Linked DNA regions of Homo sapiens. The protein of the gene in region 1 interacts with the protein of each later gene in a pairwise test. Each region holds a gene or a part of one and is shown in the gene's direction. Other genes may lie near its edges.

Region 1 (7,759 bases):
CTCAGCACTTTGGGAGGCCGAGGCGGGCAGATCACGAGGTCAGGAGTTCAAGAGCAGCCTGGCCAACATAGTGAAACCCTGTCTCTACTAAAAATACAAAAATTAGCCAGGTGTGGTGGCACGCACCTGTAGTCCCAGCTACTCAGGAGACTGAGGCAGGAGAATCCCTTGAACCCAGGAGGCAGAGGTTGCAGTGAACTGAGACCATGCCACTGCACTCCACGCTGGGTGACAGAGCGAAACTCTGCCTCCAAAAAACAAAACAAAACAAAAAACAAATAGGCGGGGCACGGTGGTTCACGTCTGTAATCCTTGCACTTTGGGAGACCGAGGCGGGCAGATTATTTGAGGTCAGGAGTGTGAGACCAGCCTGACCAACATGGTGAAACCCTGTATCTACTAAAAATACAAAAATTAGCCGAGTGTGGTGGCAGGCGCCTATAATCCCAGCTACTCGGGAGGCTGAGGCAGGAGAATGTCTTGAACTCGGGAGGTGGAGGTTGCAGTGAGCCGAGATTGTGCCACTGCACTCCAGCCTGGGTGCGAACGAGTGAGACTCAGTCTCAAATAAATAAATAAATAAATAAATAAATAAATAAATAAATAAAAGAGCCTGCGCGATGGCTCATGCCTGTAATCCCAGCACTTTGGGAGGCCAAGGCAGGCAGATCATGAGGTCAGGAGTTCGAGACCAGCCTGACCAACATGGTGAAACCCCGTCTCTACTAAAAACACAAAAATCAGCCACAAGTGGTGGCACGTACCTGTAATCCCATGTACTCGGGAGGCTGAGACAGGAGAATCACTTGAACCCGGGAGGCGGAGGTTGCAGTGAGCCGAGATCGAGCCACTGTACTCCAGCCTGGCAACAAAGCGACACTCCGTCTCAAAAAAAAAAAAAAAAAAAAAAGAGATTTCAGGTCAGGAGAGCAGAAGAACCAGTTCTTGCTCCAGCTCTGCTGTGGACAGTTCACTGTCTGGGCCTGGGTTCGCCGGTCCGCAAGACAGGGCTAGCGGTGGATGCTGTTATGGGGAGTGGGCCCCTTTGATTAGTTGTTTCCCAAGACTGCAAAGAAGGGAGGGAGACAGCAGTTGATGAGGATGGTAACAAAAACCAAAAAAAGTTACCATTTAAAGGCTTGGCCTGTTTGCCCGATGCTGCTAAATGCTGTTGTGGGGATTTTATCAATTAACCCCCATTTACCAGATGAGGAACTTGAGGCCCAGGGAACCCAAATGGCTTGCTCAGGGTTACACAGCTGGTGAGCTGCAGTCGGGAAGGGCTGGCTCTCCAGCACGGCGCCACATTGTCTGGGCGGGCTCTGGCCATGCAGGGTGGAGCCCTGGCTCACTCTCTCTCCCTGGGGGCCAGGTTCAAGGGCAGCAGGAAAGACGAGATCCTGGGCATCGCCAACAACCGACTGATCCGCATCGACTTGGCCGTGGGCGACGTGGTCAAGACCTGGCGTTTCAGCAACATGCGCCAGTGGAATGTCAACTGGGACATCCGGCAGGTGGGCCCAGACCCAGGGTATATGGATGGGGGACAGGTGCAGGCCGGAGCTGGATCCAGCCAGGGTGGGGCAGGGGCTGCTCCCTTATCCCACCCACCATTTGCCCCTCTGTCTGCCCTTCAGGTGGCCATCGAGTTTGATGAACACATCAATGTGGCCTTCAGCTGCGTGTCTGCCAGCTGCCGAATTGTACACGAGTATATCGGGGGCTACATTTTCCTGTCGACGCGGGAGCGGGCCCGTGGGGAGGAGCTGGATGAAGACCTCTTCCTGCAGCTCACCGGGGGCCATGAGGCCTTCTGAGGGCTGTCTGATTGCCCCTGCCCTGCTCACCACCCTGTCACAGCCACTCCCAAGCCCACACCCACAGGGGCTCACTGCCCCACACCCGCTCCAGGCAGGCACCCAGCTGGGCATTTCACCTGCTGTCACTGACTTTGTGCAGGCCAAGGACCTGGCAGGGCCAGACGCTGTACCATCACCCAGGCCAGGGATGGGGGTGGGGGTCCCTGAGCTCATGTGGTGCCCCCTTTCCTTGTCTGAGTGGCTGAGGCTGATACCCCTGACCTATCTGCAGTCCCCCAGCACACAAGGAAGACCAGATGTAGCTACAGGATGATGAAACATGGTTTCAAACGAGTTCTTTCTTGTTACTTTTTAAAATTTCTTTTTTATAAATTAATATTTTATTGTTGGATCCTCCTCCTTTCTCTGGAGCTGTGCTTGGGGCTACTCTGACACTCTGTCTCTTCATCACCAGCCAAGGAAAGGGGCTTTCCTGATAAAGACAAGAGTTGGTTAGAGAAAGGGACACCTAAGTCAGTCTAGGGTTGGAAGCTAGGAGAGAGGTGAGGGCAGAAGGGCACAGCTTTCAGGAACAAGGAATAGGGGCTGGGGTGGTGGTTCTCACGGGTAGGGCGTAGCTGCAGGGCCTCCTTGAAGTACTTGGGAAGGAGGAAGCCATCAGTATTCCCTGGAGTCAGAATCACCCCATTGGCAGAGCGGAAGAAGGGTATTCCATCTGCTGACAGAGCCAGAGATGTGACTCATGCCCTCCCCGAAGGCAAGGGCAGCTCCTGCTTTGTCCAGACTCACCTGCCAGAGCCAGGGGTCCATCGATGAACACAGCTATTTCACAATGGGACCGCATGCCTGCAGAGACAGCTGGAGCTGAGGCCTGGGCACCTGGAGTGCAGTCAGCAACCTAGGCAGACTGGGGTCCTGGGCTGGGGGATGCAGGGGTGCTGCTCCATGCCGGACATGGGGTGGCCCCAGACAAGTGTTGTAACCTTTGAAGGGGACCTGGGAGGACAGAGTGGGTGGGAGTAGCTAGGTGGAGGGGAGGGCACTGACCACTGATGATACCGGGGTCTCCAGGCAGTCCTGGGGCCAGGTGAATGTGCGTCCTTCCCTGGCAGGACAGGCCTTTGAGTAGGATGGATGGCCAGTGCTTCCAGAATGTACCATGGACTAGCATCGGGGGCAGGGCCTGCGGTGTCTCCAGGGGCATCAGCTCCAACTTAGGTACCTGGTTGAACGGGTAGCAGTGAGACCCCCTTCGCAGGCAGGGGTCCCTCCCATCTCGTCTCGCACTTGTCCCCTCACCCCGACCTGCAGGGAATGGCCCTGGTTGGCCCGGATGAGAAGGCCAGTGCTGGGATCCCCCAGCTGCAGGGCGAACCGCTGCTTCCTATTGGTGTCCACCACGCGCTGCACATCTTCAGCAGAGAAGCCGCGGAACTGGGGCAACTGCAGGAGGGTGCCCAGGGGCACGAAGCCATCTGTGGGCAGGCAGGGTGCTCAGGAGCTAACCTTGCTCTGGACTGGGCCAGGGTTAACAGGGAGCCACAGGCAACCGAAACAAAGTCTGGGCTTGGAGATCGCTTGGGCATCCTCTGTGGGACCTTTAGAAAGTCTCCCCTTTCTGGGCCGCAGTTTTTTCAACTTACATAAAAAGAGGATCTGCCTCACGGAGGGGCAGGGAGGTGAGTGCCCAGCATAGCGCTGGCCCGGAGTGCACACTCACACCACCAGCTGCACCGTATCCTCCAGGGCTCGCCCTCGGGGTAAGTGCTGATCTGGCTGCTTGGCTGGAGGGGGCGGTCACCAGGCCTGGCCCAGACAAGAACTCTCCTCAGTCTGCTGTGGACATGACAGGGGCTCTAGGCCTTGCTCTCCTCTGTGCATGGGGAGGAAGTGCACTCTGTGCCTTCCTCAGGGAGCGGTGGAGGCAGCCATCAGGGAGGAGTCGCAGACAGGCTCACGTTTCTCTCTGGGCTCAAGCCCCAGCCTCCAAGGCCCCTACTTACCAGCTCCCATGGGAAGCCCCAGCTTCAAGGCCCCATGGCGCAGGGCATAGGACAGAGCCTTGGACAGCTGCACGTCTCGGTCCTGAAAGAACCCAGCGGTGGCCCCTAGTCTCCATGGTGACCCTGCCCTACTGCCCATCCTGAACCCTCAATGACCCACTGCAGAGAGAGCCCAGAGAGAAAGGAGTGCCAGTGGTCTCCAGGAATAGTAGGACCCTTCAGCTCCGCCCCCCAGCAACTCCCAGGGAGCCTGGACTGGTGGGAGGGGGTGGGGAGGAGGCGCGCACCTGTTCTCGGGGTCTGGGAGCCCTTCTACCCCTGGACCCTGCTGCTTCCTGCCTCCCTCCTCCAGAGAAGTTCATGGTTAAGACCTGTGGGGGGCAGTGACGAGGGGGGACTGCTTTAAGGCCCCTTCCACGTCCCCATCCCTCCCAGAAAGTCACAAAGCCTCAGGAAGTGAGCGCTGGGTGGGAGTATACGGCTCATTAAGTTCACCACCCCCAAGTCCCTGCTGCAGAGAGGGAAACTAAGGCCCAGCAGGCCAGACTTGCCCAAGGTCACACGGTCAGCCAGGAGCGCAGGGAGGCCGAGCCCCGCACCCCAGATCGCTGGTGCGCCCCGCAGGGTGGTCCGGGAGGCAGGGCCGACGTGCCGACGGACCGGGCGGAAGCGTCGGGGCGGCGGGGACAAACCTCCAGGATCCTCGACCGCGGCGGACCCGCCAATGAAAAGCCGCGTGGAAAGGGGGCGGGCACTTCCGCTTCGGGGAAGGGGCGGAGCCTGAGGGACCCGGCGGCTGGTGAGCGCCCGCTGGAGGCTGGAGCTTCCGGGCCCTGGAAAGGGGTCCCCGCGCGCCCCGGGTCGGAGGCAGACCCCTGGGTTTGGGGGACATGGGCATTTGGGGCGCCTGAACCCAAGACCTCTGGATGGTAGGGATGCCCGGGCGTCCTGGATACCCTGCGGGACTCGGGGCTCCTGCGGGGAAGATGGCACGTTTTACTGCCCAAGGAGTGGTCAGGGGGGTGGAGAAGCGCTGCGGATACCCTCAGGAGGTCTGCGACAGAGGGGGCTAGCTGCGCAGCCCAGGAGTGGTAGTGGCCCCCCTGGATGACAGGCCTGGCCGTATCCTCCCCCAGAGCTGCCCCGTTCAGACCATGGATCCTGAGGTGACCTTGCTGCTGCAGTGCCCTGGCGGGGGCCTGCCCCAGGAGCAGATACAGGCCGAGCTGAGCCCCGCCCATGACCGTCGCCCACTGCCAGGTGGGGACGAGGCCATCACTGCCATCTGGGAGACCCGGCTAAAGGCCCAACCCTGGCTCTTCGACGCCCCCAAGTTCCGCCTGCACTCAGCCACCCTGGCGCCTATTGGCTCTCGGGGGCCACAGCTGCTCCTGCGCCTGGGCCTTACTTCCTACCGAGACTTCCTGGGCACCAACTGGTCCAGCTCAGCTGCCTGGCTGCGACAGCAGGGTGCCACCGACTGGGGTGACACGCAGGCCTATCTGGCGGACCCACTGGGGGTGGGCGCTGCACTAGCCACAGCCGATGACTTCCTTGTCTTCCTGCGCCGCTCCCGGCAGGTGGCTGAGGCCCCTGGGCTGGTGGACGTACCTGGTGGGCACCCTGAGCCTCAGGTGAGATTCCAGGCTGGGCACAAAGACCCAGACAGCTCAAGGGAGCTGCAGCTCTCCACCCTCCCAATCCTCCCAGCTTTGGTTTCCTCATTCCTTAAAGGGAAAATTGGCCTGGTATTTCTCTGGAAGTTTGCTCAGGGCAGTCCACCTGCCTCCCCACTGACCCCTGCCCCAGTCCTGTGAGAAACTAGAAAACACGGGAGGAAAGATTGGGCACAGGAAGAAGATGCCCTACTCCACCCCTGCCCCCTGTGTATCTCCTTTGAAGCTGGACCTCTGGTTGTCTGTCAGGGAAAGGACACCAGACTCAGGATCACTAACTCTCTTACACTGTGCCACATCAGACCCTCAAGGCCAGCAGGTATAGGCTTGCTGGTCCTGAGATGGGGCAGGGGGAAGAGGTGGGGAGCAGGGGCTGAGCCTGACCTCTCACAGGCCCTGTGCCCTGGTGGCAGCCCCCAGCACCAGGACCTCGCTGGGCAGCTGGTGGTACATGAACTCTTTTCCAGTGTCCTTCAGGAGATCTGTGATGAGGTGAGTGAGGTTGACCTGGACAGGGTGGTAGACATGAAGGGAGGGGGTAGGACTTGCCAGAATTCTACAGGTCTGGGCTGGCAGGAGGCCTGCAGGCATCTGGCCAGCAATGAGGGAAGAAGTTGGCTTTGCAGCTATACATACTTGGAGTGGAATTCTAGCCCTCAGTACCCTCTGCCTTGGATTCTTCTTCTTTTCTTTTTTCTTTCTTTTTTTTTTTTTAGACAGAGTCTCGCTCTGTTGCCCAGGCTGGAATGCAGTGGCACGATCTCTGCTCACTGCAAGCTCCACCTCCCGGGTTCACGCCATTCTCCTACCTCAGCCTCCTGAGTAGCTGGGACTACAGGCATCCGCCACCATGCCTGGCTAATTTTTTTTGTATTTTTAGTAGAGATGGGGTTTCACCTTGTTAGCCAGGATGGTCTTGATCTCCTGACCTCGTGATCTGCCTGCCTCAGCCTCCAAAAGTGCTGGGATTACAGGTGTGAGCCACTGCACCAGGCCGGATTCTTCTTCTTTTTTTTTTTTTTCTTTTTGAGACAGAGTCTTGCTCTGTTGCCCAGGCTAGTGCAGTGGTGGCATATCGGCTCACTGCAACCTTCGCCTCCTGGGTTCAAGTGATTCTCATGCCTTGCCCCGCCAAGGATTCTTCTTTTCAATGGAAACAATGATAAATATCTTGCCTACTCCCCAAGTCTGTTGAAAAAGGAGTAAGTGGCCGGGCGCCGTGGCTCATGCCTGTAATCCCAGCACTTTGGGAGGCTGAGGTGGGCAGATCACAAGGTCAGGAGATCAAGACCATCCTGGCTAACACGGTGAAACCCTGACTTTACTAAAAATACCAAAAGTTAGCCGGGCGTGGTGGCGGGCACCTGTAGTCCCAGCTACTCAGGAGGCTGAGGCAGGAGAATGGCGTGAACCCGGGAGGCGGAGGTTGCAGTGAGCCGAAATCGCGCCACTGCACTTCAGCCTGGGCGACAAAGCGAGACTCCGTCTCAAAAAAAAGAAAAAGGAGTAAGTGTGGCAGGGTGTGGTGGCTCACACCTGTAATCCCAGCACTTTGGGAGGCCAAGGCCAGCGGATCACCTGAGGTCAGGAGTTCGAGACCAGCCTGGCCAACATGGAGAAACCCCATCTCTACTAAAAATACAAAAAATTAGCCAGGCGTTGTGGCGTGCACCTGTAATCCCAGCTACTCAGGAGGCTGAGGCAGGAGAATCACTTTAACCTGGGAGGCAGAGGTTGCAGTGAGCTGAGATCGTGCCACTGTACTCCAGCCTGGGCGACAGAGCGAGACTCCATCTCAAAAAAAGAAAAAAAGAAAAAGGAGTAAGTGGGAGTCCCAGTCACTAAATTGACTTCTCTTGGGTGACCTTGGGCAACGTGTTCAATCTCTCTGGTTTTGGTGTACCTGTAAAACAAACATGCCCATCATCTGACATTCTGTAATGCTGGGTCCTTGATCTACAAGCTATAAAATGCTGTACACAGGTAACAGGCGGTTTTTCATTGAGACGGGCAGGGATGTGGGCAGTGGCATTGATAGGTGGGACCTCCCCCCACCCCACCCTCCACCGCAGGTGAACCTGCCGCTGCTCACCCTGAGCCAGCCCCTGCTGTTGGGCATCGCCCGAAATGAGACCAGTGCTGGCCGAGCCAGTGCCGAGTTCTATGTCCAGTGAGTAGGCTCGGGTACATGATCCTGGGTCTTGGGAAGGTGGGTGGTGAGGAGTGGGCTGAGGCAGCTGTGGCTCCACAGGTACCCCGC
Region 2 (7,799 bases), about 55 Mb from region 1:
TGTAGGTTTGGTTTGCCTGTCTCTGATGGTTAATAATGTTGAGCATTTTTTCTGTGCCTAACGATCATTTATAATCATTGGAGAAATGTCTGTTTGAATTCTTTACCCATTTTAAAGTTGGATTATTCGTCTTATTATGATTTGGTTGTGAGAGTACTTTATATGTTCTAGATAGAAGTCCCTTATCAGATACATGGTTTGCAAAATGTCCATAGTCCTTTGCTGTGTGTTGGAATGTTGCTGTGAAGTAAGGACTGGTTGTGTTCTTCACAGAAACGTGGCATGGCTGCATTGAACTGTGCCTCTACTACATGGTTTTATTTTTAAAATAAAAAACCACTCCACCCTCATAGCATAGTTCCATTTCTGGAAGGTAAGCACTGAATTTTTAAATGTTCATACAAGCATATACAGATAACTATATACATTTTTAAATAAATGAATGCAATCATATGGTATCTACTTTTCTGCAACTTGCTTTTTCCCACTTACCATATATCTTGGACATGTTTCTCACTGTTTCAGATAGATAGATCTCATTCTTTTAAATGCCTACATGTTTCATTTAGGGATGTCGTGTGTGTGTGTTTGTGTGTGTGTGTGTGTGTGTGTGTGTGTATTTGTGTATAGATATTAAAAATCCATTTTTTTTAAGAGACAGGGTCTCACTCTCACCCAGACTGGAGTGCAGTGGCATGATCTCAGCTCACTGCAGCCTCAACCTCCCTGGCACAAGTGATCCTCCCACCTCAGACTCCAGAGTAGCTAGGACTACAGGTGCACGCCACAATGCCCAGCTAATTTTTAGAAAAACGTTTGTAGGCCAGGCGTGGTGGCTCACGCCTATAATCCCAGTACTTTGGGAGGCTGAGGCAGGTGGATCTCCTGAGGTCAGGAATTTGAGACCAGCCTGGCCAACATGGTGAAACCCTGTCTCTACTAAAAATACAAAAATTAGCCAGGTGGGGTGGCCCATGCCTTTAATCCCAGCTACTCGGGAGGCTGAGGCAGGAGAATCTCTTGAACCTGGGAGGTGGAGGTTGCAGTGAGCTGAGATTGCACCACTGCACTCCAGCCTGGGGGACAGAACAAGACCCTGTCTCAATCAATCAATCAATCAATCAATGGTGTGTGTTAATTACATAATAAGAATAATGCTCACGCCTGTAATCCCAGCACTTTGGGAGGCCGAGGTGGGTGGATCACGAGGTCAGGAGTTCAAGATGAGCCCGACCAACATGGTGAAATCCCGTCTCTACTAAAAAAATACAAAAAATTAGCTGGGCATGGTGGCGGGCACCTGTAATCCCAGCTACTCAGGAGGCTGAGGCAGGGGAATTGCTTGAACCCAGGAGGCAGAGGTTGCAGTGAGACGAGATCGCGTCACTGTATTCCAGCCTGGGCGACAGAGGGAGACTCTGTCTCAAAAAAAAAATAATAATAATGCTAAATGGCCTATAAGGGTAATTAATTTGTTAAATGTGAATTAAAAGTGATCATTGTGAAGAATTTTTGACAACTTAGGAAAATTTATAGGAATAAAAAAAGCTGAATACAAAATGTTATGTATATGATAATTACAATGCTGTAAAAATTTTGTATGTATGTGGATAGCAAGGGCTAGAGAATAAAACCAGGAAAACTGAAAATGTTTGATTTGTTAAGCTATTGGGACTTACTATTTTTTTTATTTATTTTATTTGTTTTGAGACGGAGTCTTACTCTGTCACCCAGGCTGGAGTGCAGTGGTGCGATCTCAGCTCACTGCAACCTCCGCCTCCCGGGTTCAAGTGATTCCCCTGCCTCAGCCTCCCAAGTAGCTGGGATTACAGAAGCACGCCACCATGCCCAGCTAATTTTTTTATTTTTAGTAGAGACGGGGTTTCACCATGTTGGCCAGGCTGGTCTTGAACTCCTGACCTTGTGATCCGCCTGCCTTGGCTCCCAGAGTGCTGGGATTACAGGTGCAAGCCACCGTGCCTGGCTGGTACTTTTATTTATTTATTTATTTATTTTTTCTGAAATGGAGTCTCACTCTGTCGCCCAGGCTGGAGTGCAGTGGCGTGATCTCGGCTCTCTGCAAGCTCTGCCTCCCAGGTTCACACCATTCTCCTGCCTCAGCCTCCCTAGTAGCTGGGACTATAGGCGCCCGCCACCACGCCTGGCTAATTTTTTTTTTTTTTTTTGTATTTTTGGTAGAGACGGGGTTTCACCTGACCTCATAATCTGCCCGTCTTGGCCTCCCAAAGGACTTATTATTATAAGTTTTAAATTTATATTACAATATTGTATGCAAGGAAAAGTTTTTTGTTTTTTGTTTGTTTGTTTGTTTTCTTTTTTTGCTTTTGGGAGGATTTCTCTCTGTTTCCCAGGCAGGAGTACAGTGGCACAATCACAGCTCACTGCAGCCTCTACCTCCCAGGCCCAAGTGATCCTCCCTTCTCCTCAGCCTCCCAAGTGGCTTGGTATTACAGGTCCAAGCTACCATGTCTGGCTAATTTTTTTTTTTTTTGAGAGGGAGTTCACCCAGGCTGGAGTGCAGTGGCTAGATCTCGGCTCACTGCAACCTCCAGCTCCCAGGCTCAAGTGATTCTCCTTCCTCAGCATCCTGAGTATCTGGGATTACAGGCACCTGCCACCACATCTGGCTAATTTTTGTATTTTTAGTAGAGACAGGGTTTCACCATGTTGGCCAGGCTGGTCTTGAACTCCTGACCTTAGGTGATCCACCCATCTCAGCCTCCCAGAGTGCTGGGATTACAGACGTGAGCCACCATGCGCAGCCTAATTTTTTTCTTTTCTTTTCTTTTTTTTTGAGATGGAGTCTTGCTCTTGTTGCCCAGGCTGGAGTGCAATGATGTGATCTCGGCTCACTGCAACCTACGTCTCCCGGATTCAAGCGATTCTCCTGCTTCAGCCTCCCTAGTAGCTGGGATTACAGGCGTCTGCCACCACGCCTGGCTAATTTTTGTATTTTTAGTAGTGACTGGGTTTCACCATGTTGGCCAGGGTGGTCTCGAACTCCTGACCTCAGGTGATCCACCCACCTCAGCCTCCCAAAGTGCTGGGATTACAGATGTGAGCCACCACTCCCGGCATAATTTTTTCCTTTTTTTTATTTTCCGTAGAGACAGGGTTTCACTGTGTTGCCCAGGCTGGTCTTGAACTCCTGGCCTCAAGCCGTCTTCCCTCCTTGGCCTCCCCAAGTGCTGCAGTTACAGGTGTGAGCCATCATGCCCAGCCTGCAAGGAAAATTTTAATGGTCTACAAAACACAATAAAATAGCTGACTGTTTTTAGACTGAAACGATGAGAATATGGTGCAGAGAGCAGTAAAGATATTATTGTAATACTTTTAAATATTACAATAGAGTAATACTCTGGTTTTTTTTTGTGTGTGTGTGTGTGTTTTTTTGACACAGAGTCTCTCTGTGTCACCCAGGCTGGAGTGCAGTGGCGCGATCTCGGCTCACTGCAAGCTCTGCCTCCCGGGTTCACGCCATTCTCCTGCCTCAGCCTCCGGAGTAGCTGGGACTACAGGTGCATGCCACCGCCTGGTTAATTTTTTGTATTTTTTAGTAGAGACGGGGTTTCACCGTGTTAGCCAGGATGCTCTCAATCTCCTGACCTCGTGATCCACCCGCCTTGGCCTCCCAAAGTGCTGGGATTACAGGAGTGAGCCACTGCGCCCTGGCCAACTATGTGTAATACTCTTAAGTGAGGGGATGAAAAAGGAAAGTGTTTTTTTTTTTTTTTTGAGATAGAGTTTTACTCTGTAGCTCAGGCTGGAGTGCAGTGGCACCATCTTGGCTCACTGCTGCCTCCACCCTCCGGGTTCAAGTGATTCTCCTGCCTCAGCTGGGAGTAGCTGGGATTATAGGCACCCGCCACCATACCCGGCTGATTTTCTTATATTTTTAGTAGAGACAGGGTTTTGTCATGTTGTCCGGGCTGTTCTCAAACTCCTGACTTCAGGTGATCCACCCGCCTCAGCCTTTCAAAGTGCTGGGATTATAGGTGTGAGCCACCATGCCCAACAAGAAAAATTTTAAAGGGTGAAAATCATGGCTGGCTGGCGCAATGGCTCGTGCCTTTAATCCCAGCACTTTGGGAAGCTGAGGCGGGTGGATCATGAGGTCAGGAGTTCAAGACCCGCCTGGCCAGCATGGTGAAAACCCTTCTCTACTAAAAATACAAAAAATTACCTGGGCATGGTGGTGTGCGCCTGTAATCCCAGTTACTCAGGAGGCTGAGACAGAACTGCTTGAACTTGGGAGGTGGAAGTTACAGTGAGCTGAGATGGCGCCACTGCACTCTGGCCTGGGCGACAAGAGTGAGACTCCATCTCCAAAAAAAAAAAAAAAAAAAAAGTTGTCTGTCAGGAATTCCTTCTATAATTTTCACAATTATCTAATGATGCTTTGCTTTCCTTACCTATGTCACGATGAGCAATTTGGGTGATAAAATAGTAGCATATACAGTGTTCCTCTTGGGGGTAATAACGTACAGTCTGGCATTGTAATTTTGAAATAACATGCTTTTTAACAGAGCAGCATCAGAAATGGTGTTTGGAATATGTCAGAATCTCTTTCTTTTCTCTGCTGCATCTGTTCCTCATATTCCCTAGTTTTGCTGAAAGCAATCCAGGGCATGCTTACCAAACTGCTCTGTGCATGGAGTGCCCTTATTAAACCATGTCCATTAGTGCTACTTTATTGAAGTTTAAGAGAGGTGTTTTTTGTTCTTTTTCACATCAATAGTTCAGTTGAGATCAAACCATCACCAAAATGGGGATACCTAATGACTAGACCTAGATGTTCATTTCTAAATTCTTGTCTCTGCTCTCAGCTCTTTCCTGACAGGTATTTTTAGCTTTAAGCCTAGTAGGTCCTATCTCTGTTGTCACTTCAAAGGTATCAGGCTCTACCTACCTGCCAGTCAGTTTCATATATTCAGTTTTTGAATAGTCCTGGAACTGCACAAAGCCTTCAAGTTTCAACATTTCACCTATCCAATAGGATATTCTGCCCCAATTAGAATTGGCAGTATGAACTCTTTGCCCATACTTTAACCCTTAGCATCATATGGAGTCTGCGAGAACTCTATCTCATTTGCTAGCACGTTCTAATTACTTTTTACTTCACTGAATTATATTTAATTAATGGAACATGCTTACACTCTGGCTATATTTAAATATAACTCAAGGCTGGGTGTGGCTTATGCCTATAATCCCAGCTACTCAGGAGGCTGAGGCAGGAGGATCACATGAGCCCAAGAATTTGAGGTTGCAGGGTCCTGCCACTGCAGTCCAGCCTGGGTGACAGAGTGAGACTCGACTTTCATATATCATATATTTTCTGGGCACGGTGGCTCACACCTGTAATCCCAGTACTTTGGGAGGCTGAGGCATGCAGATCACTTGAGGTCAGAAGTTCGAGACCAGCCTGGCCAACATGGTGAAACCCCACCTCTACTAAAAATACAAAAATGAGCCAGGTGTGGTGGCACGTACCTGTAATCCCAGTTACTCGGGAGGCTGAGGCATGAGAATCACTTGAACCTGGGAGGTGGAGGTTGCAGTGATCTGAGATCACGCCATTGCACTCTAGCCTCGGCTACAGTGAGATGCCATCTCAAAAAAAAAAAAGTAGAGTAATGCAGTATTTGTCTTTTTGTAACTGAAAATTAGCCTATGCTAATTTTATTCTCAGCAGGGGTCTTTTTTTTTTTTTTTTTTTTTTTACCACCCCCCCATACGGAGTTTCGCTCTTGTTGCCCAGCTTGGAGTGCAATGTTGTGATCTCGGCTCACTGCAACCTCCACCTCCCGGGTTCAGGCAGTTTTCCTGCCTCAGCCTCCCAAGTAGCTGGGATTACAGGCGTGCACCACCACTCCCAGCTAATTTTTGTATTTTTAGTAGTGACGGGGTTTCACCTTGTTGGTCAGGCTGATATGGAACTCCTGACCTCAGGTGATCCACCCACCCTGGCCTCCCAAAGTGCTGGGATTACAGGCATGAGCCACCGCGTGCAGCCCACAGGTCTTAACAGTAGGGTACTGGTGTTACTTTGAGTCTTCTCTGCCAGCTTTTGGAGGTGCCAAGGAAATGACGTTTCAGCTTGTTCTATGAACAGTTATAGATTATGGATCCTTTTGTACCTAAAAGGTCACCCCTTGACTTTTTCTTTAAATGTGCGTGCCACCACATCCAGCTAATTTGTTAATATTTTTAGTAGAGACAGGGTTTCACCATGTTGACCAGGCTGGTCTCGAACTCCTGACCTCAGGTGATCCACCTGCTTTGGCCTTTCAGAGTGCTGTGAATCCAGGTGTGAGCCACTGCACCCAGCCTTGACTGACAGTTATCATGGCACTGATACCTTTTTGTGTATCTGAACAGTAGTTCCCACTTTTGGTCTAATGAAGGTACAGTTTATAGTATTTCCAAGACAAAATTCTTCAAGCAATCCTAAACGTAAAAAGAATTACAAATTATTACTACTATCTGTGTATTGCTCTTTTAAATATTGATGCTAAGTCAGATCTTTGGACCTGGAAAGGTCCTCAAGACATCTTCTGGTTCAGTTCCCTGTCCCAAGGCAGCTACATTATCCCAGCTACTGTTTGAGATAAGCCATGGTCCACAGAGGTAAGGAGACCTGGAGGTAGAAGGGAAGAAGGAGGTTGTGTTGGTGATTGGTAGAAGAGTTGCCCATTCATCCATTTATTCTGTACCTATTGTACTTCTACTATGGGCCAAGCACTTTCTAGGCACTAGAGTCAGCAGTGAGCAAACAAACAGAAGTCTCTGTCCATTCTCATGGAAGGGGAAATAGATAAACTAAATACATAAATACATGTAATTTGTTAAATAATAAGTACTGTGCAGAAACATGGAGGGGAAAAGAAGGATGGGGTTTACCATGATTGAGCAGTTGGGAGGTGCAGTTTGAAATGGGATGGACAGGGAAGCTCTCATTCCATTTGAGCAAAGACTTGAAGAGGGTAGGGAATGAATAATGAAGATACTGGGGACAATGTTTCAGGCAGAAGGAAACTCAAATGAACACGTTCTAAGGCAGCAGAACATCCAATATGCTTGAGGAAAATGCCAATGTGGCTGAAGTGGAGTGAATGAGATGGTGAGTAGTAGGAAATGAGGGGCAAGATCATTGGCCTCATTGATCAGTGTAAGGATTTGGGGATTTTACTCTGAGAAAGTCCTCAGAAGGTTTTGAGCAGAAGCGGGACATGAGCTAACTTTTCCCTTCAAAGGACACTGACCGCTGTGTCAAAAGAAGAGTGTAGGAGGCTAATGGAGAAGCAGGGAAATAAGTTAGGATGCTGTTATAGTAATGCAGGTGAGAGACTGGTTGTGGCTTAGATCAGGGAAGTACTGGTGAAGGTTGTGAGAGGTAGCCAGATTCGGGGTAGATTTCTGAAGATTAAGTCAACAAAATATGCTGACACATTGTAAGTGGGAATCCTCAGCAATGCTAAACCCAAAGGACTCTAATTATGGGAATTCTAGAGATCATATGAAACTGATGGGCACAATTCGTCAGTGTACTTCTAAGTTGCTAAGCGCACTGACAAATTGTGCCCATCAGTTTGAATTGTTGAATTATAAGAAGCATGCCTTGGACTTTGGGCTAATACTCTTACCCTACATATTGAGTGAAATTTCATCTTATTTCCAACACCATTACATCCTCAGCAGCTTTTTGTGGTTCATAAATATTCTTTGTAACTTTCATTTCACATGTATCATTCTTTGTTCCCAAGTGTCTTTATTTTTCT
Region 3 (7,654 bases), on another chromosome or scaffold:
ACATGGCAGCAGCAAGAGAAAAAAATGAGGAGGATGCAAAAGCGGAAACCCCTGATAAATCCATCAGAACTTGTGAGACTTACTACCATGAGAACAGTATGGGGTAATCTGCTGTCATGATTCAAATTATCTCCCACTGGGTCCCTCCCACAACATGTGGGAATTATGGGAGTACAATTTAAGATGAGATATGGGTGGGGACACAGAGCCAAACCATATAGTTTCACCCCTGGTCCCTCCAAATCTCATGTCCTCACATTTCACAAAAAACATGCCTTCCCAACAGTCCCTCCAAAGTCTTAAGTCATTTCGGCATTAACCCGAAAGTCCACAGTCCAAAATTTCATCTGAGACAAGGCAAGTCCCTTCCACCTATGAACCTGTAAAATCAAAAGCAAGCTAGTTACTTCCTAGATAAAATGCGGATATAGGTACTGGGTAAATACAGCCATTCCAAATGGGAGAAATTGGGCAAAACAAAGGGGTTACAGTCCCCATGCAAGTCTGAAATCCAGCAGGGTAGTCAAATCTTAAAGCTCCAAAATGATCTCCTTTGACTCCATGTCTCACATCCAGGTCACGCTGAAGCAAGAGGTGAATTCCCATGGTCTTGGACAGCTCCTCCCCTGTGGCTTTCCAGGGTACCGCCTCCCTTCTGGATGTTTTCATGGGCTGGCAATGAGTGTCTGTGGCTTTACCAGGCACACAGTGCAATTTGTCGGTGGATCTCCCATTTTGGGGTCTGGAGGATGCTGGCCCTCTTCTCACAGCTCCACTAGGTGGTGCCCCAGTAGGGACATTTCCCTTTCACATTGCCCTAGCAGAGGTTCTCCATGAGAGTTCCAACCCTGCAGCAAACTTCTGCTTGGACATCCAGGCATTTCCATATATCCTCTGAAATCTAGGCGGAGATTCCCAAACCTCAATTCTTGACTTCTGTGCACTCACAGGCTTAACACCATGCGGAAGCTGCCAAGGCTTGGGGCTTGCATCCTCTGAAGCCATGGCCCAAGCTCTATGTTGGCCCCTTTCAGCCATGGCTGGAGCAGCTGGGATGCAGGGCACCAAGTCCCTAGGCTGGACACAGCATGGGGACCCTGGTCCCGGCCCATGAAACCATTTTCTCCTAGGCCTGCGGGCCTGTGATGGGAGGGGCTGCTGTGAAGATTTCTGACATGCCCAGGAGACATTTTCCCCATTGTCTTGGGGATTAACATTTGGCTACTTGTCACTTATGCAAATTTCTGCAGCCAGCTTGAATTTCTCCTCAGAAAACAGGTTTTTCTTTTCTTTTTTCTTTCTTTCTTTCTTTTTTTTTTTTTTTATTATACTTTAAGTTCTGGGGTACATGTGCAGAACGTGCAGGTTTGTTACATGGGTATACATGTGCCATGGTCGTTTGCTGCACCCATCAACCCATCATCTACATTAGGTATTTCTCCTAATGCTCTCCCTCCCCCAGCCCCCTACCCCCCGCCAGGCCCCAGTGTGTGATGTTCCCCTCCCTGTGTCCATGTGTTCTCATTGTTCAGCTCCCACTTATGAGTGAGAACATGTGGTGTTTGGTTTTCTGTTCTTGTGTTAGTTTGCTGAGAAGGTTTTTCTTTTCTATTGCATTGTCAGGATGCAAATTTTCCAAACTTTTGTGCTCTGCTTCCCTTATAAAACTGAATGCCTTTAACAGCACCCAAGTCACCTGTTAAATGCTTTGCTGCTTAGAAGTTTCGTCTGCCAGATACCCTAAATCATCTCCCTCAAGTTCAAACTTCCATAGATCTCTAGGACAGGGCAAAATGCCACCAGTCTCTTTGCTAAAACATAACAAGAATCACCTTGGATTCCATTCCCAACAAGTTCCTCATCTCTATCTGAGACCACCTCAGCCTGGACTTTATTGTCCATATCGCTATCAGCATTTTGGGCAAAGCCATTCAACAAGTCTCTAGGAAGTTCCAAATTTTCTCACATTTTCCTGTCTTCTTCGGAGCCCTCCAAACTGTTCCAACCTCTGCCTATTACCCAGTTCCAAAGTTGCTTCCTCATTTTTGGGTAACTTTTCAGCAGCATCCCACTCTGCTGGTACCAATTTACTGTATTAGTCCATTTTCATGCTGCTGATAAAGACATATCTGAGACTGGGAAGATAAAGCAGTTTAATTGGACTTACAGTTCCACATGGCTGGGGAGGTCTCAGAATCATGGTGGGAGGTGAAAGACCCTTCCTACATGGCGGGTGGCAAGAGAGAAAAATGAAGATAAAACCGTCAGATCTCATGAGACTTATTCTCTATCATAAGAGCAGTATGGGGGAAACCGCCCCCATGATTCAAATTATCTCCCACTGGGTCCCTCCCACAACATGTGGGAATTATGGGAGTACAATTCAAGATTAGATTTGGGTGGGGACACAGAACCAAACCATATCAGATGGGTCAGGGTAAGTTTGGCTGGATGTAACAAAAGATGGACAGTAAGTGTAACTAGGTGAGGGGAGGTTGTCCCTACTGTCTAGCACTGATCTTTAGGTATATCATTGTTGAGGCTATTTTGTCCACACCATCTTCATCTTTCAAGATCTCTACCCTCTATTGAGGGCATGGATGGAGGAAGTGGGGAGTACCATGATTGTTGACAAGGTGGCCACCCACAAGGGCAGTTTGAATGGCAGGGGGCATGAACAGGCATTCTTCTGCTGAAAGATTTATGGATAATGTTTAGGCAGCCATCAAGAGAAGGCTGGTGTCCAGCACTGTATTTCCTCTGTAAGGACTGTGTGATGTTCTCTGTCAATGGCAATGGATGGCATGCAGGTTTTGCTTTGACTTCCAATAGCTCCCACCTCTTTTTTGTCTGGCCATGTTTCCATCCTCCCCTGTAGAGTTCTGACTTCCTACTGGGAAGGCAAGGAGCAGCTTCCCACCCCACTGTTCTTAAGAATGATCAATAAGCTTTGCTCCTGTCTGAATCTACCTTGCTGACTTCCTATAACTGGGGTTGGAACTCTCTCTCTGTAAAATGTCAGATAGTGAATATTTTAGCTTTTGTGGGCCAAGAGGCAAAATCGGGAATGTTTACACAAATTTTTTGAAAAAATTCAAAACTTTATTCACAGACACTGAAATTTGAATTTTAGGTAAGTTTCATTTGTCATGTAATATTATTATTTTAATTTTTTCAACCATTAAAAAATATGAAAACCATTCTTAGCTCAATGGCCAGATAGAGTCAAGTGGCCAACTGCAGACAATAGTTTGCTGACCTCTATTCTAGAGCCTATTACTGAAGGAAAAAACCTAACCCCCCCCACACAAAAAGAAACCCTCTGAATATTAAGTGTCTTGCAGTCCAAGATGCCTCTGACTGACTCATTCACTAAAATGAATGGAAAGAGTTAGGAAGCATAGGAAAGAAAAGCATAAAGATTGTCAATACTTTAAGCTCCCATTTCCCATAAGCAGGAAGTCAAAATGTTTTAAGTCCAAACAACTGGCCAGAGCAGTGTCTTTTGAACTTGCTTCATGACCAGAATCACCTGGCTTCTTGTTGAAGCTAGATTCCCGGACTAGAGGTTTTGATGCAAGGGAGACTTCTGGGTGGGGGTGTGCTCTCGGGATCAGGTAAGCTGAAGAAACACTATTCCAGGGGGTGTAAAGGAACCTCAAAAGCTGTAGTTCTTAAAGTGTGGTCCGTGGCCCAGCAGAACCAGCATTACCTGAGAGCTTGTAAGAAATGCAAGTCTTTGGCCTACCCTAGAAACACTGAATCAGAAACTGGGGGTGGGGTCTGGCAATCTGGTTTTCATCAAGCCAGGTGGTCCTGATGCCAACTAGAATTTGAGAACGCCTGCTTCAAGGCATCATTACCAGCATCTGGAGAAGTGATTGAGAACCCACCTGAGCAGTGAAGGCCTGGGCGCTCTTAAACCACTGTGTTCTCAAGAGCGCAGGTCTGTGGGTGAGAGCAATTCTAACAGACATCTGAAGCCAAAGGCCTAGGTTTCCACAGGAAGATCTGGAAACCCTGTTCAAGGCAAGCCTTTTGGAAGTCAAGGCTGTATTCCCCTAAGAGGGGGCACCATGGATCCTAGAGATAGCAAATGCCACCCAAGGTGATGGTGAGGGAGTTTTCAGCTTTTCTGCACGTGTGACCGTTTACTGCACCAGGAGCTTTCTAGTGACTTCCACCTTTTTCAGGTTTTTCCAAGGTTCACCGGGGAACCCCTGTCCTGGGCCTGCCAGTGAGGTGCTGGGAGCTTCCCGACCTCACAAGCGGCTCTTGTGATGTAATTGCCACCTGAGGCGTGCCCCTCCTGGCCCTGGCGACATCACAGAGGCTACCTGGGCACGGACCCCGCAGCTTCCTGGGGCCCAGTCAGCCGCTCCAGGTGCTTAAGTCTGGACTGCGGAGGCCGGGGCGGTGGCGTGCAGGGTGAGGTCTCCCGGGCTGGCGCGCGTGCAAGCCCCCTGCTGCTACCTCGCGCTAGGCCAGCTCCAGGAGGGCAACAGACGACAGGACATTGCAAAAGGGCCACTTAAATTTTCCTTCGAGTAAACAGAACACCTGCCAAGACCCTCGAGCCTGGGCGTGCCCCAAGACAGGTGGTTGGGGTCTAGGAGTCGGCTGCAGCTGGCGATGCTCTGAGGGGACGTCAGGGCCTCAGGATCGCCCCTATGAAGACGAAGTGCATCTGTGAACTGTGCTCCTGCGGGTAAGGTGGCCACGCCCAGGGCAAGGCTGGGGGAGCCTGGGTTTTCAGACTCCCGAGGAAGGGAAGCCTCCCCCAGCTGCTTCATCAGGCGGCATCACGGTGGGTTCGTCCACTTGCTACGTTTTTTAAGCCACAATTGTGTCAACTAGCGTTGTGCCCGCGGACGCCACATCAGTTCTGGCGAATGTGGCTGTTTTCGGGCCTTCTGTGCCGCTTCACTTGAGAACTGCAGGAGGGTTGAAAATGGGCGTGACCGCGCAGTCTGCACTCCCTTCCCTGAAGCCCAGAAAGTGTCAGCCAAGGAGGGAGAACACCTGGCCCAGTGGGACCAGTCTTGCTCCTTTTGGGAAAGTGATAGGATGGGAGGAGAATTCCTGTAGTATAACTGAATTTCTCATTCAGAGAGATTGTTACTTTGTCAGAGAAGTATAAGGTATTAGTAAAACTTGTTCCACATTGTGTAGAGTTGAATAAGGATAATGAAAACATTACTTTCACAGTCGCCTGGCCTGCCAGGTCTCCCTTCTAACCTTTAAGGACCATCTTTGGGTGGAAGCGCAGTAAAGGTGGTCCTGGGGGAAATCATGGACTTTAGTCAGAGTCCCACGGGCTGACTGGTCTGCTGTCACTCACATGATCTCTTAGAGGCTCCTTCTATCTGCTTCCCAGGGCAGCTGGGTTTCTGCTTGGCTGGGGCAGGGAGTGGGCAGCAGAGGAGCAACAGGCAAGAGGGTTCTGAGGTCACCTTTCCTGGGCTGTCATTAATTGTGGGATCTTAGATTGGTAACTAAACTCCAGGTCATAGTCGCCTCATCTGTACCAACAATACGTACCTCATAGGACTATTGTAAGAGTTAAGATCATGTATGTGAGTCCTGGTACATGGATTGTGCTTAATATGTTAGTGTCCTGAAATCTGAAAAAAGGGCAAATATGACACATGCATATAAAAATGGTATCAGTAGTGTGGAGAATTAAAGGGCACTCTAAAAACTGGATCAGCAACCTTCTATATCTCTGGCATCAATAAATGGTTCCCAACTCTGGCTGCTGATTAGAATCACACAGGGAGTTTGAAAACTATCAGTTGCTCAGGCCGTTGAATTGATACTCTCAGAGTGGGCCCTGTCAACTGTCTAAAGGTGATTCTGGCCATTTGCTAGGACTGGGACTCACTGAACTAGATCATGTACAAACGTGGGTCTTGCTTTTGAGCTTTGTTAAGTGGGGCCAGAGCAGTGTATAGTCTAGGACTACATGTTACCAAGCAAAACCTTTTTTTCTAAGGCCGCCTTTCTTTTTTCTTTTTGGAGGCAGTGTCTTGCTCTGTTGCGCAGGCTGGAGTGCAGTGGTGCCATCTCGCTTCACTGCAACCTATGCCTCAGGGTTCAAGTGATTCTCCTGCCTCAGCCTCCTGAGTAGATGGGATTACAGGCACATGCCACCATGCCTGGCTAATTTTTGTATTTTTAGTAGAGACAGGGTTTCAACCATGTTGTCCAGGCTGGTTTTGAACTCCTGATCTCAGGTGATCGCCTGCCTCGGCCTCCCAAAGTGCTGGGATTACAGGCATGAGCCACTAAGGCCTTCTTTCTACTGGGATGCTTTACATTACCCTCCTGTGTCCTCCTGCATTGTTCTAGGCATTGGGATTGAATGTATAAGACATAGTCTCCATCTTTGCACAGCGTGCAGTCTAGGTAGGAAGGCAGAATGCTCATTAAGAGGTGCAGAGCATATATAGTGAGAAGTCTCCCTCCTGCCCCTGCAGTAGGGTTATGACTCATTTGGGTGTTCCTTCTCTGACTCTGTTCTCATTCTGTCCCTGCAAAGGAGTCACTTTCCATTGGAAGCAGAGTCTGTTCTTGTGTCTCTTCTCCTTTTCTTCTCTCCTCATCCTGTATTTTCTCCTCCATTTTATGGTTTCAGCCAATAGTTTCTCCTGTCTTCTGAATTCCAGTTTCATTTTCATCTTCTCAAAGTGCTTTGGTGATCCATCTGTCTCATTAATCTCAACTTCAACAACCTTCAAACATTATTCTGGTATCTGCCCCATTCATGGTGCCAGCAATCTTCCATTCACCCTGGGTGAAAATTTTGAATCATCTCTTACTCTCCCTCAAACAGAACATTGAATCTTTTTCTTCTTCTTATTTTTTTATTTTTTTTATTTTTTTGAGATGGAGTCTTACTCTGTCGTGCAGTGGCGCGATCTCTGCTCACTGCAACCTCCGCCTGCTGGGTTCAAACGATTCTCCTGCCCCAGCCTCCCAAGTAGCTGGGATTACAGGTACCCACCACCATGCTGGGCTAATTTTTGCATTTTTAGTAGAGATGGGGTTTCACCATGTTGGCCAGCTGGTCTTAAACTCCTGACCTCAAATGATCCACCTACCTTGGCCTCCAAAAGTGTTGGGATTACAGGCGTGAGCCACCGAGCCTGGCACATTGACTCTTTTCTAAAGTCTGGGTCCCTCCTCCATTGTAATCTTTCTTTAATTGGTCCCTTCCCTTTTATTCCGGTTACAACCTCCCTGGTTCTCTCATTTTTGTGTTTGGAAACTGGTCCTAAATTACCTTCCTAGTTTTTTTTTCTCCCATGATTCCCTTACATGAAACTACACCTTGAATTGGATCAGGTTTCTTGGCATCCCCTGAGTGGACCTGCTGATGTCCCTTTTCTGATCCTTATCCTTTCCCTTTCTCTAAAATACCTATGTTCCCTCCTCCTGCTGGACTTGTAAGGCCCGGTTTCACTTGCAAGTTCCCTGTTAACCCAGCCCTGTGGCTCCCCATCAAAGAAAAACCCCGCTCCGTGTTCTCATCCTCTATGCATCAGCATGCTTTATATCCTCGATTAATTATATGTACGCTGGGAAAACAGATATTTTCTATTTTTGTGTGTGCACTGTATCATAGCAACACAGTTTTCTTTATTAACAGCTA

What was found. The genes of interacting proteins can lie anywhere in the genome.
Region 2: the proteins of NUDT22 (region 1) and ZNF143 interact in binary tests that used the Homo sapiens proteins (3 or more experiments, as listed by UniProt).
Region 3: the proteins of NUDT22 (region 1) and SAXO1 interact in binary tests that used the Homo sapiens proteins (3 or more experiments, as listed by UniProt).

Annotation. Positions count from the first base shown.
Region 1 is NC_000011.10:64,221,676-64,229,434, forward strand, and holds the start of NUDT22 (uridine diphosphate glucose pyrophosphatase NUDT22), read left to right. Parts: upstream 1-4,598; 5' UTR 4,599-4,749; coding exon of another isoform or gene 4,750-4,752; exon of another isoform or gene 4,753-4,959; coding exon of another isoform or gene 4,960-4,977; coding exon 4,978-5,457; intron 5,458-5,725; coding exon of another isoform or gene 5,726-5,818; intron 5,819-5,892; coding exon 5,893-5,991; intron 5,992-7,470; exon of another isoform or gene 7,471-7,571; coding exon 7,572-7,669; exon of another isoform or gene 7,670-7,759. Other genes in the region: FERMT3 (fermitin family homolog 3 long isoform), read left to right, coding at 1,373-1,514, 1,638-1,817; TRPT1 (tRNA 2'-phosphotransferase 1), read right to left, coding at 2,201-2,292, 2,425-2,535, 2,610-2,666, 2,868-3,042, 3,120-3,295, 3,824-3,905, 4,111-4,185. UniProt on the Homo sapiens protein: Hydrolyzes UDP-glucose to glucose 1-phosphate and UMP and UDP-galactose to galactose 1-phosphate and UMP. Preferred substrate is UDP-glucose.
Region 2 is NC_000011.10:9,463,498-9,471,296, forward strand, and holds part of ZNF143 (zinc finger protein 143), read left to right. Parts: exon of another isoform or gene 1-373; intron 374-6,232; exon of another isoform or gene 6,233-6,425; intron 6,426-7,045; exon of another isoform or gene 7,046-7,141; intron 7,142-7,799. UniProt on the Homo sapiens protein: Transcriptional activator. Activates the gene for selenocysteine tRNA (tRNAsec). Binds to the SPH motif of small nuclear RNA (snRNA) gene promoters. Participates in efficient U6 RNA polymerase III transcription via its interaction with CHD8.
Region 3 is NC_000009.12:19,029,925-19,037,578, reverse strand, and holds the start of SAXO1 (stabilizer of axonemal microtubules 1), read left to right. Parts: upstream 1-4,369; 5' UTR 4,370-4,670; coding exon 4,671-4,708; intron 4,709-7,654. UniProt on the Homo sapiens protein: May play a role in the regulation of cilium length. Stabilizes microtubules at low temperature.